2 linked regions of the Homo sapiens genome follow. The protein of the gene in region 1 purifies or fractionates together with the protein of each later gene. This does not show direct contact. Each region holds a gene or a part of one and is shown on either strand. Other genes may lie near its edges.

What was found. The genes of interacting proteins can lie anywhere in the genome.
Region 2: the proteins of AP3S1 (region 1) and RABL6 purify together in Homo sapiens (affinity purification with mass spectrometry; 3 studies listed by BioGRID and IntAct, with this or other methods). This does not show direct contact.

The regions. Positions count from the first base shown.
Region 1 is NC_000005.10:115,844,845-115,848,595, reverse strand, and holds part of AP3S1 (AP-3 complex subunit sigma-1), read right to left. Parts: intron 1-3,751. UniProt on the Homo sapiens protein: Part of the AP-3 complex, an adaptor-related complex which is not clathrin-associated. The complex is associated with the Golgi region as well as more peripheral structures.
Region 2 is NC_000009.12:136,810,797-136,814,547, forward strand, and holds part of RABL6 (rab-like protein 6), read left to right. Parts: intron 1-1,791; exon of another isoform or gene 1,792-2,830; intron 2,831-3,137; exon of another isoform or gene 3,138-3,379; intron 3,380-3,686; exon of another isoform or gene 3,687-3,751. UniProt on the Homo sapiens protein: May enhance cellular proliferation. May reduce growth inhibitory activity of CDKN2A.

The sequences.
Region 1 (3,751 bases):
AAAGATTTCCTTTCAGAACGAAAAAGACAAGGACACTGATAACCTCAGGTTACACAGGTAAGTTTAATTTTATACAAAAGAAAGATATATACACATTTCTTAGGACATGCAAATTATTAATGTGCTATTACCATATACTGTCTTTTTTAAATTTTAACAAGAGAGTGGCTGAACATTAACATATTCAGTTATCTTAAAGCCACAATGTTTAATAAATCCATCATCAGCTTCAAAGCATTTATTTGTGTTATTAATGTCTAAAAGGTATATCCTATTCACTGGGACATTCTGAAAAGAAAAATAAAGACCGGGGGGAAATACACTAAGTGTTAATAATTATCTGTGTGTGGTAAAATCAAGAATGACCTTAGTGGCCTTAATATTTAATTTTCCACAGTCACAAAAAAAGAAACTTACTTAAAATTGAAAACAACTTTGCTAAAGAATATAATATAGGTACGTCACGTAAGGCCTTCTTTTAGAAAAGCCATGAAATGACCTATAACATTGTCCTATTTATAACACTTACCTCATAACCAAAAATCATTTTAACTTTGAAGACTTTATTTCCTCCTTTACAATTAAATATTCAAAAGGTTTAGTCTTAATTTTTAAAAAGCAAGTTTTCCAGCATACTCCACATAAAAACTGTGAACGTATAAGCATTTGGGTTTTTCGAGGATACTTTGATATAAGGAAAACCTGAAATTAAGATCTATTGTGACACAGGTTCAGTATTGCATATTACAAGGAACTATTCCTGATATTAACAACCTCAGAAGCAATCTAAAATTTCAGAAAACTAATATATATTAAAAGCTAATAAAGAGGGAATAGTGGTGATAGACATGTTAGTTAGCTTGATTTACCCATTTCACAATATATACATATACAAAAATAACATGTACACGGTAAATATATGTAATTTTTTTTTGTCATCTATACCTCAATAAAAACATATATTTTTTTAAATTTGTTGAGACAGGGTCTCCTCTGTCACCCAGGCTGGAGCGCAATGGCGCAATCTCAGCTCATTGCAGCCTTGATCTCCGGAGCTCAGTGATCCTCTCACCTCAGCCACCTAAGCAGCTAAGACTATAGGTGTGTGCTAACATGACTCACTAATTTTTGTATTTTTGGCATAGAGACAGGGTTTTGCCACGTTGCCCAGGCTTGTCTTGAACTCCTGGGCTCAAACAATCCTCCCATCTAGGCCTCCCAACGTGCTGGGATTACAGGCATGAGCCACTGTACCCGGCCATAAAAATAAATATTTTTTTAAAAGTTTAGAAGAAGAAATAGCAGACCCTTGTTTGCCTACCCACCATCCACTCCTTTCTTTCATCTTTCCAACAGAATATCCATTTTATTCCCGTTTTCACTCTCATCTTCAGCTCCAATCCAAAGTTGGATGTTGATTAGGGTAAGAATATTGGTCTTGGGTGGGTCTAACCAGAATGAAGGGAAAGACACAGTCCAGGACTGCAGAAACAGATGGTTGTCTCTTTCTGAATTGAACTGATTACCAAAGGAGAAAAACAGCCTTTGGATAATAGTAATTTTGTGATGAGTAAAGCAGAGAAAGAGAAAGAAATTGGATCTACAATAAAGTCATTGATTTGCTGAATCAAATACTTTTGGAATCGGTCTACTACTCTGCACTTCCTATAATGTACCTAACATAGTTCTTTCCAAGCACTTGAGTCAGGCTACATAAAACCCAATTTATGCAGACAAACGCATTATAACTAATATGGAAGGAAACCAAATCGTATGGAATTTTCTTCTTAACAAAAAGCTGAAATGCCGTGTGTTAGTATGTGTTAACACCCTCATACTCAGGAGTGTTGATAATTCTATCTTGATCACAGACATAAGTTTAATTATCCCATCTGCCACAACGTCTTAATAGTCACTAAAAAAAGACATGAGTGAACATGGATGGATCTTTTTAAGGGATATTTTTAAAAGAAAAAAGAAGTTATCTATACTTTCAACACTTTGTATTTTTATGTTAAGATTTAAAAAAAAAAAAAAAAACGAGAAAGAAGAATCTTAGAGTTCCTCCTAAGGCTTGCATTTGGTTAACAGTTTAATTAAATACAGTTTATTAAAAAAATTGAGGCAACTCATATAGGTTAATTTGAAATTTTTCCTGCTTGCACTTAATATGTGTGTGGTGTGTACACACACATGCATACATACACACAGTATTTTATATCTGAAGAAACAACTAAGATAATTCACACAAAAGAAAGACATTTCCACTTTATAAAAGTAATTCACAGGCCAGGCATGGTGGCTCAGATCTGTCATCCCAGCACTTTGGGAAGCCAAAGCTGGAGGAGTGTTTGAGGCCAGGAGGTTAAGACCAGCCTGAGCAACATAGTGAGACCTTTTCTCTATAAAAAAAGAAAAATTTTTTAAAAGTAATTCACCAGAGGATACACTATGGAATCACAACCGAAGGGATTTTTTTGTTTGATAGCTATGTAAAAATATATTTAGTTTATAAAATATAAGTCTCATTAGTTATTTACAGTAATGCACAAATACTGTCAGGTAAGTATTAAAAGACTAAAGGTTACTGTTGTCAAGTCGCTGAAGCTAAGTATCAACTTAAAAAGACAAACCAAGCAAAACATTTGAATTTGTGCAGTCATAGACCAAGGATATAGAAGGCAAAAACGAAAAGGGATGCATTTTGAGTCCAGACTTGAATTTTTTTTTTTTTTTTTTTTTTTTTTTTTTTTTTTTTTGAGATGGAGTCTCACTCTGTCACCCAGGCTGGAATGCAGTGGCACGATCTCAGCTCACTGCATTCTCCACCTCCCCAGGTTCAAGCAATTCTCCTATCTCAGCCTCGAGCGAGTAGCTGCACTTATAGGCGTGCGCTACCATGCCTGGCTAATTTTTGTATTTTTAGTAGAGATGGGGTTTCACCATGTTGGCCACACTGGTCTTGAACTCTTGACCTCAGGTGATCCGCCTGCCTTGGCCTCCCAAAGTGCTGAGATTACAGGCATGAGCCATGGCACCCAGCCCACACTTGAATTCGTAATGTCTGACTCTAGCAGAATGAACCAAAACTTCTGTTTAGCAAAACAGGTGCGCAACTTCCTATTTCTCACATATAACAGCTTGGAGCCACAATCGAATCTAACAATCTATTACAGCATGAAATGGAAATGTGCACTGTTAAAGGGCAGAGATGAATATGTAAGTTGTTATATTTGAGGGAGATAAATGAGGAATGAAAATGAAGTGCAGTAGGATAAACTTGTTGGCAAATGGTTAAACATTTTTTAAACTGCTCAGTGTTAAACGATTACTGTTGGACTCAAACCTCAGCATCCTGCCAGTATATGGAATTGTTAGCTCAGTCACACCTCTAGATATTGTTTAATAAATTAAACTCAATATTTTTATTCATATTGGACATATACTTCTTAGAGACCCCTTAAAACAGAAACAGCTGAGTAACACATATGCCATCATTACTTTTATGCTAAAGGCAGAGATTCTTAAAACCTCTAGTTAGTGAAGGACTACATTTTAAGAGATAGAAGGAAACTCAGCAAGTTAACTAATCCCAACTCTATCCCAAGCTAGGAGATTCTAAATAAATGCATTTAGCAAAGAGTTAGAGAGTTTTCTATGTTCAAGACTCAGTGTTGACTGCTTAGAATGACAAAAATATACCTAAAATCTGATACGTTCCTTCAAGTATTCTATAGGATGGCTGCCACGA
Region 2 (3,751 bases), on another chromosome or scaffold:
TCTCAAAGTGCTGGGATTACAGGCGTAAGCCACCATGCCCGGCTTTCTGGTATTTATTTTCTCAAATATTTTACAGAGCGTAACAGACCAGCAATGTGATCAAGACAGAGTCGAGGGTTTTGGGGGTGAGAGTTTCTGGGAACTGCTGCGGGTTTCCAGGAGTCTGGGCTCTCCTCCTGGGCCCTGCATTTGCTCGGAGTTGCTAGTGGTCCCGGTAGACGTGTGGGACACCCACTGGTTTTAGAATAAAAACTCGAATGAGACATTGGACCATAATGGATGAAAAAGTCAAACTCTGTCAAATATTTGAAGAGATTTATTTTTGAGCTGAATATGAGTGACCATGGCTCGTGACATAGCCCTCAGGTGACCCTGAGGACATGTGCCCAAGGTGGAGGGCACAGCTTGGTTTTATACATTTTAGACATGAGACAGTAATCAAATACATTTAAGATATATGTTGATTTGGTCCACAAAGGCGGGACAACTTGAAGTGGGGGCTTCCAGGTCGGAGGTAGTTTAAAAAAATTGTGTTTTTTTGCCGGGCGCGGTGGCTCACGCCTGTAATCTCAGCACATTGAGAGGCCGAGGCAGGCGGACAACCTGAGGCCAGGAGTTCAAGACCAGCCTGGCCAACATGTCGAAACCCCGTCTCTACTAAAACTATAAAAATTAACCGGGTGTGATGGTGGGTGCCTGTAATCCCAGCTACTCAGGAGGCTGAGGCGGGAGAATCGCTTGAGCCCAAGTGGCAGAAGTTACAGTGAGCTGAGATTGTGCCACTGCACTCCAGCCTGGGTGACAGAGTCAGACCCTGTCTCAAAAAAAAAAAAAAAAACAATTGCACCACCACACCCAGCTAATTTTGGTATTTTTTAGAGAGACAGGGTTTCACCACGTTGCCCAGCTGGGCTCAGACCCCTCTACTCAAGCAGTCCGAACCCCTTGGCCTCCCAAAGTGCTGGGATTACAGGCGTGAGCCACCGCGCCTGGCCAGATTATGTTTCTTATCAGACTTAAAGTCAGTGTTGATGTTAAATGCTGGTGAGCTTTTCCTGAATTCCAGAAGGGAGGAGGCCACAATGAGGCCTGTCTGACTCCCCTCTTCCCATAATGGCCTGAACCAGTCTTTCAGATGAAATTTGGATGGCCCTGGCCTAGAAGAGGAAGTCCATTCAGATGGTTGGCAGGCCTTGGGATTTTAATTTTGGTTTACACAATTTTGAAATTATTTGCATATAAAATTATTAGGAAAATTATTTGAAATTATTTGGAAGAAAGATTGTTGCCTGAGTTGGTCTGTCCCTTTCTACTGTGACTGGACACAAAATATCAGTTGTATTTGGTGCAGAATTTTTCTGTGGAGTTGCTCCTGAGTGAGCATTATTGTGCAGCTCTGATACTGGCCTGGCCCAGGAGCTCGGACAACCAGAGTCCTCTCTGAGTAGACACTGGTGCGAATTTAGAAATGGGACTTAGCAGGCCGGGCACGGTGGCTCACACCTGTAATCCCAGCACTTTGGGAGGCTGAGGTGGGCGGATTACATGAGGTCAGGAGTTCAAGACCAACCTGGCCAACATGATGAAACTCATCTCTACTGAAAATATGAAAATTAGCCAGGTGTGGTGGCGTATGCCTGTAATCCCAGCTACTCGGGAGGCTGAGGCAGGAGAATCGCTTGAACCCGGGAGGCAGAGGTTGCCGTGAGCCAAGATCACACCACTGCGCTCCAGCCTGGGCGACAGAGTGAGACTTCGTCTTAAAAAAAAAAGAAAAGAAAGAAAAGTTTATATGAATATCCAGTCAAAACAAACAAGGAAGGTATTACCCTTGAAATGTTGTCTATACGAATTTCCAAGGAGACCACAGGACTGTAGACTGTCTTGGAATGTCCTCAGAGAGCTCTGTCATTGATCAGGTAACGGAATAAAAACCCCAGCGTCCTTTCTTTCAAATGGGAGAGGGAAAGACAAAGGGACAGAAGCCGTTCAAACTTTGTCTTCTTTCCTTGTGGCTTGTGGTCACCTCTGCCTCCCCAGAAGCTGCCTCGCCCACCAAAGCCTTCCTGGCTTCTGCCACCACCTCATCCTCCAAAGCTTCCTCTACCTCCATCACAACCCCAAAGCCACCTTCGCCCTTAGGTTTGGCCCAGTCCAAGTTACCTTTGTTTCCCTCAATTTCACCATCTTCCGCGGCCTCCTTGGCGCTTTTGGCATCCTCCTCACTGTTGCCATCTACAGAGCCAAAGCCTTTGGGGCACCCGGTTTCCTGGTTGGTGACTACCCTTGCCCAACAAAGCTGTCGAATGACTAAAGCCTCTTCAGTGGTGTCCTCAGACAGGCCTTTGACAGACAGTTTTAGATGGCTGGCTCCTGGCATCAGGTGGTCCTTGCAACTCCAGCCTGATTGCCCTGCCCCCAGTTTCCCTTTTATTACAGGAATTTAAAGCTGCTTTATCATCTTCAAATGAAGCGAACTGTAAGTGCATGCACACCCTTTAGATTTGCCATTTTGGTTCTGGGGCACTTTGATAAAAGTTGCCTTGTCTCAGATTCTTTCTGAAGAGTTTCTTCTGTTGCACTGTAGGAGAGGTTGCTTAAACCAGAGTTTTTGATTCACCCCTCCAAGTGGTCTCTCTAGTCTTGATTTAGACCTTTCTCTCCATGATAGTGCAGGGAAATAGATCGGCCATCCATCTCTGTTCCCTGCGTTTCTTCAGAAGTTTTCTCTGCATTAGCTTCTGTCTTAACCTCAATATAAGCAGTCCCTTTACTCTTCCCATCCTTGCTGACTAATCCAATCTCCACAGCATCTTCAAACACTTTTTTGTTTTTTGAGCCAGAGTCTCGCTCTGTTGCCCAGGCTGGAGTGCAGTGGCCGTGATCTCAGCTCACTGCAAGCTCCACCTCCCAAGTTTGCGCCATTTTCCTGCCTCAGCCTCCCGAGTAGCTGGGACTACAGGCACCCGTCACCACACCCAGCTAATTTTTTGTATTTTTAGTAGAGACAGGGTTTCACCGTGTTAGCCAGGATGGTCTTGATCTCCTGACCTCGTGATCTGCCTGCCTTGGCCTCCCAAAGTGCTGGGATTACAGGTGTGAGCCACTGCGCCACTGCGCCCAGCCAAAACACTTGTAATTCATCCTGAGTGACTTTGTAAGGGAGATTTGTAGCCAAAAGTATTCTCACATCTTGCTCTTTCTTACTGTCTTTTCCTTTTGGTTTCTCTAGTTTAATTTCATTGCCAAAGTCTTTCAAACCAGCGAGTTCCAAGGCTCTTTCCAGGTCTTCAGCAGCTTGAAAATCCACATAGTCAGATTTCCTTGTCATACCCATTCTGACATCCACAACAGCAAGATCATTTTTAGCAAAAATATCATGGATACTAGTTTTTGTTTTTCTTTCTTTTTCGAGACAGGGTCTTGCTCTGTTACCCAGGCTGGAGTGCAATGGTGCTCACTGCAGCTTCCACCTCCCGGGTTCAAGTGATTCTCCTGCCTCAGCCTCCCCAGTAGCTGGGACTACAGGCACGCACCACTACGCCCGGCTAATTTTTGTATTTTTAGTAGAGACAGGGTTTCATTATGTTGGCCAGGCTGGTCTCAAACTCCTGACCTTGTGATCTGTCCACCTCAGCCTCCCAAAGTGCTGGGATTACAGGCGTGAGCCACCAGGCCTGGCCCATGGATACTAGTTTTTAACTCAGGAGCAGACTTGTTAAAGTTCAGGTTTCCAACAAAGATTGAAAGA